3 linked regions of the Homo sapiens genome follow. The protein of the gene in region 1 interacts with the protein of each later gene in a pairwise test. Each region holds a gene or a part of one and is shown in the gene's direction. Other genes may lie near its edges.

Region 1 (3,750 bases):
ACAGAAAGGTTAGAATGGGGCCAAGTGATCCTAGTGCTTTGGGAGGCTGAAGTGGGAGTTCAAGACCAGCCTGGTCAACAAAGGGAGACCTTGTCTCTTCAAAAAATACAAAAAAATTAGCTGGGCATGGTGGTGTATGCCTGTACCACCAGCTATTCTGGAGGCTGAGGTGGGAGGATCACTTGAGCCCCAGAGTTTGAGGCTGATGTGAGCTATGATTGTGCCACCGCGCTCCAGCCTGGGTAACAGAGTGAGATCCTGTTACAAATAAAAACATAAAGATAAAAAGAGAAAGATTAGAATGGCTGAGCTAAGATTTGAACCCCAGTCTGTCATAATTGTGGAGAATGGAGGAGGAGAGCCAGACCCTGCCCTTAGTGAGTGTGGGGGGAGAGGAAAGGTGGGAGAGGCAGGGGAGGGGGAGCATCTGGTTTGAAAGCCACCAGCCACAAACGCTGCGTGCTCGTTGTGCATGCGGACTGTGGTGTCACCTGAATGCTGAGCCCACAGGTAGAATCGTCCGTCTCCATCAGCTGGGGCCAAGTGTGGGGAGGTTCCCCGAGGAGGTTCTGGAAGCAGGAGGTGAAGATGGGGAGGGAGAGCCCTGCCCTTTCCACCGAGGATTTGTCAGCCCTGCCCTCCACGGCTCTGCACCGAGTGGTTGCTGGAACCGGTAACAGGAAAGGCCTGGTGTGTGTGTGTGTGCGTGTGTGTGTGTGTGTGCGTGTGCGCGCGTGTGTGTGCGTGCTTGTGCGGATGTACATTTTCTTGTGCATATATAGGCATGCTTATATATGCGTCTGTGTGTTCTGCGTTCATAGGGGGCACAGGTGGTTTGGGGTATGCCTGCTTTTGTGTGTGTGTGGGTCTGGGGTGAGTGGATACACTCTACCTTGAAAATCCTGGTATATCTGGCCTTGAGTGACCTTGAATATTCAGACTTAACCCAGAAGAGGAATTGGGGAGGATGGTTCACTTGTTATACCAAAGCTAATCCACTCTACAAAGGGTTTCACGGTGGGCGGGAGTCAGGAAGAAGTAAGTGTTCCTTGAAATCTAGGCCACTCCTGTGTATTTAGGGTGCATTTAGGATGCCTTTCCAGGTACCGGAATCCAGGCAGTGGGCTGGGGGGCCTCAGTGGCAGCGTTGTTAATCGAAGCCCCTTTCCTGGGGGCTGGGAGGCCGTTGCTCCTGGCCTGGCTGGGCCTCAGAGTCCCGTGGGGAGCACATTCAGGTGCCCAGGCCGTGCCTCATACCTGGCGGGGTCACACGAGGAGGGCCGGGCCCCGGCGTCTCAGTTTTGGCAGGCATCTCAGGAAAGAGGTGTCACAGGCCTGACCCCGGAGCTGGCCTTCCTGGGGGACCCTCTGGACCAAGACTTTCAGGAAAGCAACCAGGGCAGGGCTGCTGTGTTTGTTCCCTGCCCTCTTCCCCGGAGTGGGAGCTACGGGTGGGTCACTTCCTTGACCTGTGCCTCAGTTTCCACGGTGCCAAAATGGGTCTGCTGTTGTCACCTCCTGGGGAATTTCCTTTCTGTGTGGGCGGCAGCTCAGAATGTACCAGGCATTGGCAGAGGGCCGCTGAGGAAGTGGAGGGCTTGGATTTGGGAGTGGCGGGTGGGTGGGGTTGGGAAGACACTCACCTGTGCCAAGGACACCTCCTTTAAAGCCTCACGGCGCCCCCATGAGGGAGGATCGTGTCACACATACCTTTACCAGGGCTCCAAGAGCCAGGGTCAGCCATGGCCACAAGACGGTTGGCTAGGGAGTCAGGAATGGGATTTGAACTCTGGTCTGTGGAGCCCCCAAGCTTCCAGTCCAGGCAGTGGCTGAACGCTAGGGTGTTAACAGGAATGAGAGGCGCAGTCGGCTGGGGCAGTGGTGGGAGCTCCAGGCCTCATCCTGACTCCAGATTCCATCGTTTCTTGCTTCTTTCTCTTCGGTGAACCTTTTGACCTGCAAGGGTAGCTGGGGGTTAACCTGCTACCCTCCAGGTTCAAATCCCGGTTCTCCTGTTTACTAACAGTGTAAGCCCAAGCAGATTTCTTGGCCTCTCTGTGCCTCAGTTTCTTCATCTAAAAATGGGGGAAAGAATAGGATCAGGCAGTTATCATAGGACAGAATAAATTAATATCCAGTCACACACCACACAATGATGAACCACGTACACAATGGTGCTGCCATAAAATTATTATTATTATTATTATTATTATTTTGAGATGAAGTCTCGCTCTGTCCCCCAGGCTGGAGTGCAGTGGTGCAATCTTGGCTCACTGCAACCTCTGCCTCCCGGGTTCAAGTGATTCTCCTGCCTCAGCCTCCTGAGTAGCTGGGACTACAGGCATGTGCCACCACACCCGGCTAGTTTTTGTATTTTTAGTAGAGACGGGGTTTCGCCATGTTGGCCAGGCTGGTCTCGAACTCCTGACCTCAAGTGATCTGCCACCTCGATCTCCCAAAATGCTGGGATTACAGGCGTGAGCCACTGCGCCTGGCCTCCCATAGAATTATAATACTGTATTTTTACTACACCTTTTCTTTCTTTCATGATTGTGTAGTGGCATGATCCTGGCTCACTGCAGCCTCAACCTCCCAGGACCGAGTGATCCTCTCACCTCAGCCTCCCAAGTAGCTGGGACCACAGGCATGCACCACCACACCTGGCTAGTTTTTAAATTTTTGTAGAGATGGGATCGTCTTATGTTGCCCAGGCTGGTCTTGAATTCCTGAGCTCAAGCAATTCTCTCACCTTGGCCTCCCAAAGTGCTGGGATTACAGGTGTGAGCCACCATGCTTAGCCTACTTTACGTTTTCTTTTCTTTTCTTTTCTTTGAGACAGAGTCTCGCTTTGTCGCCCAGGCTGGAGTGCAGTGGCGTGATCTCGGCTCACTGCAAGCTCCGCCTCCCGGGTTCACGCCATTCTCCTGCCTCAGCCTCCGTGTGTGTTACAGTGACCTACAGTATTTAGTACAGTCACATGTGGTCCAGATTTGTAGCCTAGGAGCAATGGGCTATGCCATATAGCCTAGGTTTGTAATAGCCTAGACTATTCAGGTTTGAGTTCACTCTATCACCTAATGGCACATTTCTCAGAGTGCATCCCCATGGCTAACTGACGCATGACTATAGTTGCGCTCTTATATTTAGTTCAGAATTCAGAACCTCTGCTTCCCTCCTGAGAGCCATCTCTGACTGTGCCAACTCAAAACAACTGCCCCCTATTTACCCACATCCCTGGACCTCCCCTCAGGGGAGTGTCTGAGTGGGCATAGGGTCTGTGCCCCCAGCTCCCTGCCCTCACCCTTGCCTTTCTCCCCACCCTCCTAGAAGTGAGTGAGTGTGGAACTGCAGGGCCCTGAACGGCCCAGGGCAGGGCATTGCTTTGCCTGACTTGCTGGGGGCCTTGGGACAGCCCCTTGCAGAGCAGGGAGACTTGGCTGGGAGATCTCCAACTTTCCTTCCCGCCCTCGCTTTTGGGGAGTCCCATGACTTGCTGTGTGACCTTCAGGGCGGGAGGAAGGGTTGAGAATCTGGGTGAGGCTCTCAAGGCTCAGGAAGGAAAGTACGATCGCTGCTTAAAAAAAAAAAATAGATTAGTTGCTGCTTGAAAAAACAAAAAAGCGTAAACCAACAAAAAAGCATAAACCAACAAAAAAAGAAAACCTGCTAGCCAAGAGCCCACCCCACCGGTGGGGGCAGCCTGGGCTCTTCGGGGCTGGGCAGGAGGGTGGGCGGAGGCAGGTGTGTCTG
Region 2 (3,750 bases), on another chromosome or scaffold:
CCTGGGCAAAATAGTGAGGCCCTGTTTCTACAAAAAAAAAAAAAATTAACTGGGTGTGGTGGTGTGTGCCCATAGTCTCAGCTACTCAGGAGACTGAGGTGGGAGGATCACTTGAGCACCGGAGGTCAAGGCTTCAGTGAGTCATGATCACACACTGCAGCCTGGGTGACAGAGTGAGAGCCTGTCTCAAAAAATAAATAAATAAAAAATAGATAGATAGATTGATTGATTGATATAGAGAGGATAAGTAAAAACAAAAACATGTATGTACTATAAAACCTGGGATGGGCTGGGCGTGGTGGCTTATGCCTATACTCCTAACACTTTGAGAGGCCAAGGCAGGCGAATCACTTGAGGTCAGGAGTTTGAGACCAACCTGGCCAACATAGTGTGAAACCCTGTCTCTACTAAAAATACATAAATAAATAAATAAATAAATAGCCAGGTGTGGTGGTGCATGCCTATAATCCTAGCTACTCAGGAGGCTGAGTTGGGAGGATTGCTTGAACCCAGGAGGTGGAGGTTGCAGTGAGCCGAGATCACACCACTGCACACTCCTCATAAGTGCCTGGAAGGGCAACACAGTGAGACTCCATCTCAAAAAAAAAAAAAAAAAAAAAAAAACAACCCTGGGATAGAGGCAGAGAAGAAAGGAAGTGGTGGGCAGTGTGGGTGGTCTGTCTTACCTTTCATAATGGAGAGCTGGTGCCTACTGTTTAGAATTCACAAACACAGAGTTCAAAGTGGTTGCCACTGTGGCTAGGGTAGGAGACATCTTTTTATTTCTCATTCTTCCATGTACTTCAAAAATTATCACGCCCTGTATATCAGTTAACTGTTAATGTAAGAAAATAACATGAGGTGGTGCAGTGGCAGCCGTGTGAATGCCGGTTGATCAGTCTTGCATTCAGGACTTGTGGAGAACCGCCCTGGGGGATGGTTTTGAGCAGAGCAGTTCCTCGTTCCCACAGGTGCCTCATTTTTCCCTGGTTCCATTCAGAACATCATTTACTGCCTAGAGCTAATTCCAGATCCTCCTCCCACCCGGGGCAGTTTATCAAAGGCAAAATAAAGAGGGTGGGCCGGGGACAGTGGCTCACACCTGTAATCCCAGCACCTTGGGAGGCCGAGGCAGGTGGATCACCTGAGGTCTGGAGTTCGAGACCAGCCTGGCCAACATGGTGAAACCCTGTCTCTACTAAAAATACAAAAAATTAGCTGGGCGCGGTGGTGCATGCCTGTAATCCCAGCTACTCAGGAGGCTGAGGCAGGAGAATTGCTTGAACCTGGGAGGCGGAGGTTACAGTGAGCTGTGATCCTGCTACTGCACTGCAGCCTGGGCGACAAGAGCAAAACTCCATCTCAAAAGAAACAAACAAATAAACAAATAAAGAAGGTGGGTGGGGGTGACTCCCTGAAAGTTTCTAGACGCCTCTTCTAAAGATAAAAACATAATGTGATGCCTGAAAGAGGGAAGAACTGCCCCAAAGAGTCTGGGATGTGGCTGAGGTGGCCACTTTGCCAGGAGCTGATGAGGGGGATGAAAGTAAGAACTGATTTTAATCTTCGCCTCTCGTACAACCCCTGGTGGGCACCGGATGATGCCCTGTTCCACTGATTTTAAGTTGCATTTTCCCCCCCGCATTTCCACATTCTCCAAGTGAGAACGTGTCCCGCAGTGTGAGGGTGAGCTGTCGTGATATAATTAGAGTCTCTTGGCCTTCTTGGTGGTCCATAAGATAGCGGCATGCCTTCCGATGGGGGACCCGGGAGTTGCTGAGTCGCAGCGCTTGCACAGCGATGGGCTTATTTGGTCTCTCCGGCACATGGCTCAGCCCTGCTCCGTGGCCGTGGGTGGCGTCCCCGGCTGACCCCCTGTCTTGCAGGTGTAGTCGCCGCCGCCAGCCGCCATGGGCAAACAGAACAGCAAGCTGCGGCCCGAGGTGCTGCAGGACCTGCGGGAGAACACGGAGTTCACCGACCACGAGCTGCAGGAGTGGTACAAGGGCTTCCTCAAGGACTGCCCCACCGGCCACCTGACCGTGGACGAGTTCAAGAAGATCTACGCCAACTTCTTCCCCTACGGCGACGCTTCCAAGTTCGCCGAGCACGTCTTCCGCACCTTCGACACCAACGGCGACGGCACCATCGACTTCCGGGAGTTCATCATTGCGCTGAGCGTGACCTCGCGGGGCAAGCTGGAGCAGAAGCTCAAGTGGGCCTTCAGCATGTACGACCTGGACGGCAACGGCTACATCAGCCGCAGCGAGATGCTGGAGATCGTGCAGGTACCGGCGCCCGAGGCCCCGGGTCTCACCGCGGGCCCAGGTCCCCTCCCAGCTCCCAGCCCCCAGCCCAGGGCTTTTTTTTTTTTTTTTTTTTTTAAGACAGGAATCTTGCTCTAGTGACTGGAGTGCAGTGGCACTATCTCAGCTCACTGCAACCTCTGCCTCCTGGGCTCAGGTGATTTTTCCGCTTCAGCCTCTTGAGCACCTCCATGCCCTGTTAATTTTTTTGGTATTTTTGATGGTAGAGAGAGGGTTTTGCCACATTATCCAGGCTGGTCTTGAACTCCTAGGCTCAAGCGATCTGCCCGCCTCAGCCTCCCAGAGTGCTAGAATGACAGGTGTGAGCCACCGTGCCTGGCCTCCCTGTGTTCTTTATGTTCACTCGACATTGGGTCTTTCTTGGCCAGGTTGCTACCTGGTGCACTTTGGAAAGTGAGCAGTTGTCACCTGATTGGGCAGACCCTTGCAAAGGGCAATGGTAAAAGCCAATGTTTATTGATCACTTGCTATACATCAGGGCCGGGTGGAGCACTTTGATCCGTTTTCATCTTCATAACCCAACAACGTGGGTCATTCTCTGCATTTTACAAAGTCTGAGACTCAAATAGATGAATTTCTAAAAATTATATTTTATATATATTTGGAGATGGAGTCTCACTTTGTCGCCCAGGCTGGAGTGCAGTGGCATGATCTCGGCTCACTGCAACCTCCACCTCCTGGGTTCAAGAGATTCTCCTGTCTCAGCCTCCCATGTAGCTGGGATTACAGGTATGTGCCACCGCAGCCAGCTAATTTTTGTATTTTTAGTAGAGACGAGGTTTCACCATGTTGGCCAGGCTAGTCTTAAACTCCTCACCTCAGTTGATCTGCCTTCAGCCTCCCAAAGTGCTAGGATTACAGGCATGGGCCACCGTGCCTGGCCAAGAATTGTATGATTGCTGGGCTCCTTGGCACTTGCAAGAGGTACCTGCCAAGACCTGGGGAAAGCCCTGGATTTGAGAACTCAACAGATAGCTTGTGATGTCCCCAGGAATGCGCAGTCATCAAGTAAAACTGAAGCATTAACGATCACGAGAATCAGCTCAGCACGGGAAAGACGTCACTTTAGGAGGCATCTCTTCACCTTCATGCCTATCAACAGCTCTAGCAGAAAGGCCATGTTTCAGAAGGAAACCAAGTTTTGTTCACTTGGCCAGGTGCCTAGGTATGCGAGAGAGAGTAGAGAGCAGAGCTGCCCCTCCCTGGCATTCCCCTGAGTGCCTCCCTGAGCCCAGGAGCATCCAATTCTAGAACTCATGGCCAGGCCTGTAATCCCAACACTTTGGGTGGCCGAGGCTGGAGGATCGCGTGAGCCCGGGAGTTTGAGACCAGCCTGGGCAATATAGTGAGACTCCATCTCTATAAAAAATTAAAAGAGTAGCAGGGCATAGTGGCATGCACCTGTAGTCCCAGCTACTTGGGA
Region 3 (3,750 bases), on another chromosome or scaffold:
TAAATTCTGCATGAAAAGGAATAATATGTTCACATAGCTACCAAATTGTAACTTTCTTTTATTTTCCTCCTTGAGATCCATTAACAACAGTCTTATGTCCCCTGGATTGGGAAACCCTTACCTGGTTAGACAGGGGTTAAGAGGAAAACTCATAGTGTTAGTACAAGTTATGCGAGTTAAAACCATGGGCCACAGAAGGTAGTTCATGTGCTCATAGCATTTGAAGCAAGCATTAAAGAATGCATGTGGCTTTCCAGCTTAATGTAAAGCACATACACGTGTGAATTGATCAATTGTCATGTTAATTCCAGATACTCAAGAGAGAGCCCTAAAGGTTTATCTGACAGAGGTCTCTAGGATGAGGCATGTTTGAAATTAAGCTGGAAGTGGAGACACTTCCCAAGTATCTGAATGCAGAACCTTATTTGGCTTATTGGATATTTAAGACCAATACAGGGGGTATTAATAGTATTGTTTAGTGTGACTTATGTAAGTAGTTGTCTCATTCAACATGTTTCTTTAAATGTGCAGAAAATAGTGCCTGATATTCCTCTCCAAACCAACAGCGTAACTTTGCAGTTGGTCAGCTGCCGTCACAGCCCTATATTCAGAATGTCCAAAGTCATCCTTTCTATGACATCAACACCCACTGTCTCCGCGTAAGAGAATGGGAGCTATGACATTTTGCACAAGCTGTTGTTTAAATTCAATCCAAATCCCTCGCATTTGAAATGGAAGCTTAGCAATTTGTCTTCGTGTGTTCTCAAAGGAATTACGAAAGAGATGTTCTCAAACGTTTCTTATTCTTTGGATTAGAAAAGAACACTTGCCTTGGGAGCTTTGAGTCTCTAGCAACTTGATAAAGAAACTTGGAAAAAGTTTAAAATCTCTGACTCCAGGCTGTACTGTTTGCTTCTCAAGCCAGGTGTTTGAAACTTTTCAAAAAGGAATGTGCCATTATTTTTCATAAAATCCACATTTATTTAACTGGTGCTTCATGATGGAAATCTAACTAGAAATAGCATTCCAAAATGTAGTATTTTTTATTGTTTTCAGAAGTGATACCATAAAAGTTAATGTTCACTAAGATTTTGATATAAAAATTATATGATAAATATTGAAATTCACTGGAGCCAAACTAAAAACAGTCTGCCCTTTTTATCTCAGTAGTGAACTTTAGGGGGTTTTTTGCATGTATTTTCATAAGTGCCTTTAAATAAAGACACGGCATCCCTTTAAAATTTAGTTTACATTAATGTAAACCAGAATATTCTCAGGTCACAATGCAGTTTTATATTTGATTTGTAGGAAATAAATCTCTAGCCTGAAAGACATTCCAGCTGTTGCCTGTCTTCATGGGAGGATTGTTCACATTTTCTGAATCTCTCCCAGTGACTGCAGGAAGACCAAAGGCTGCACATTGCTTTTATGCAAGGATGAATTTTTTTAAAAGATGATTTTGGATTTTGTTTGCTTTAATGAATTTAAGCCCTATCTATTAGAGGTAAATGTCAAGAAAACTGTTGTGTTCTTTGGCTATCTGCTCTGCTGACTCCCACAGACTTTGATATGATTCATATAACTCAAACCATGATCAGGTTTGTGACGACCATATTTACAATATCGTTGGAGATCAAAAATAGCATCTCACAAAAGTTTCCCCGTCCTATACCTTCCCACATCTTATCATGGATCATGTGCAGCACAGTCACTCAATTGGCGAACATTTATTAACGGACTACTGCATTCACAGTATTATAGTAGGCATGTGAGGTCCTCCCCTGATGGGATCCTCAAGTGAGATATGCTGCTGGCATAGAGAACCCAAGGGCCTTTATGGACCCTGGCTTTTGTTTGCTTGAGCTTTTATTCAAACATTCAGTCTTTCATGCATTCAGCAAATTTTGAGCACATACTACGTGTCAGGCATTGAGCCAGACCCCAGGGTTGCTATAAGGTACAAGACAGGGCAGGTCCCTTCCATCATGGAATATGCAGTCTAACTATGTAGAGAACTTGCCCAGAGACCTATATGTACTATTAACTGGGGTTCTCTTTCCCACAGCCACACTGGCCACTGCAGTCCAAAAGAGAATTCTAAAAGGAAACAGTACAAAACAGAACATCAAAACAAAACAGACAAACAACCTGGGAACCATTAGGTTTTACACCAGAGTGAAACCCCAGAAGAGACATTCTGCAGCTGGTGAACAGCCGGCCTCATTTGTGAGCAATCTGTTCCCATCAGTGTCAGGGATTCCAGGTCGGTATGCTCAGTCCTATTCCCAGTTGGCCAGAGGCTATTTGTCCTCTAGTTCAGAAGACAAATGAGACTGGTAGGGACCGACCTAGAGAGTATTTTCTTTTATGCAAATACCCTGTTTCATACAAATAATGAAAACCATTGTATTTTATGAAAGGAGTCTTTAAATTAGTGATATTTCCAAAAATATCTCTCCCGTCTTCCCTGTACTAACCCAGTCAGGACAGGGTCACTGCTGTAATAAATAGCCCCCAATCTTAATGGCATAATCCAACACTGTTCATTTTTCACTCACCCAGAAATCAGGATTGGGCGAAGGGCTCTGCTCCACACAGTCCTCCAGGGACTCAGGCTCCTTCTATCTAGTTAAACTGATCAGGGGCCTGTTTCTACCACTTGCTAGTGATACTCTGAGCAAGTTACCTAAATCAGAGTTTTCTTATGTGAATAATATTAGGGCATCCCTCTTGGATTTTTGAGTCAATTTACTTGGCATAGAAACTGACAGGTATTAGGTACTCAATAATGTGAACTGCTGTTATTAATCTTCTACTTCTGGTAGTGCTGCCACCACCATCCCCCGAGGAGGCAGGAAGAATCCGTCAGAATTGGAAGAGTATTATAATAATAGCTAACACTTAGGAAGCTGGATAGTCTTCAAAGTTCTTTTCAAAGTAACTATTTTTTAACAACATTCTAGTTTTATAAATGAGGAAATTGAGGCACAGAGAGCTTAAACAAATTGCTGAGTGTCACACAAGTATACAATAGAGCTCTAGGCATTTGGCTTCAGAGTCCTGGCTCTTTATTCACTATACTATATTGCCTTTCAACTTGGAATATACAGCAGAGCCTCAAATACCGTCATTTCATTCAACATCGTTTTGTTGTAATGTTAATGAGAAAAAATAATTGGTTTTGTTGTCAATGATGTTGTGAGGACTTACTATTATATATTGTATTTTCCCCAGAATTAATGTTATATGTTGTGGCAGATTGTATTCAAAAATAGCCTTACAATTGAATCCATTACCACATTAAAAAAATTTTTTTTTAGAGATGGGTTCTCACTCTGTTGCCCAGGCTGAAGTGCAGTGGTGTAATCATAGCTCACTGTAACCTCAAACCTGGGCTCAAGCAATCATCCCACCTCAGCTGCTTGAGTAGCCAGGACTATAGGCGTATGCCACCATGCCCAGCTAAATTTTTGTTTTTATTTTTATAGACTTGGGGTCTCACTATGTTGCCCAGGCTGGTCTTGAACTCCTGTCCTCAAGAGATCCTCCCACCTTGGCTTCCCAAAGGGCTGAGATTACAGGCATGAGCCACTGCATTACCATATGTTCTTCTAGAATCTTGCTCCTCTCCATCAGGAGGTGAAGTCTATTGCCCCTCCCTTTGAACCTAAATGGGCTTATGATTGGTCCAACTGATAGAGTACAGTGGAAATAATGCTAGGTGACTTCCAAGGATAGATCATAAAAAGA

What was found.
Region 2: the proteins of NBL1 (region 1) and HPCAL1 interact in binary tests that used the Homo sapiens proteins (3 or more experiments, as listed by UniProt).
Region 3: the proteins of NBL1 (region 1) and NCALD interact in binary tests that used the Homo sapiens proteins (3 or more experiments, as listed by UniProt).

What each region holds. Positions count from the first base shown.
Region 1 is NC_000001.11:19,647,161-19,650,910, forward strand, and holds part of NBL1 (neuroblastoma suppressor of tumorigenicity 1 isoform 2 precursor), read left to right. Parts: intron 1-449; exon of another isoform or gene 450-510; intron 511-3,750. UniProt on the Homo sapiens protein: Possible candidate as a tumor suppressor gene of neuroblastoma. May play an important role in preventing cells from entering the final stage (G1/S) of the transformation process.
Region 2 is NC_000002.12:10,417,848-10,421,597, forward strand, and holds part of HPCAL1 (hippocalcin-like protein 1), read left to right. Parts: exon of another isoform or gene 1-618; intron 619-1,886; 5' UTR 1,887-1,910; coding exon 1,911-2,288; intron 2,289-3,750. UniProt on the Homo sapiens protein: May be involved in the calcium-dependent regulation of rhodopsin phosphorylation.
Region 3 is NC_000008.11:101,784,368-101,788,117, reverse strand, and holds part of NCALD (neurocalcin-delta), read left to right. Parts: intron 1-2,065; exon of another isoform or gene 2,066-2,263; intron 2,264-3,750. UniProt on the Homo sapiens protein: May be involved in the calcium-dependent regulation of rhodopsin phosphorylation. Binds three calcium ions.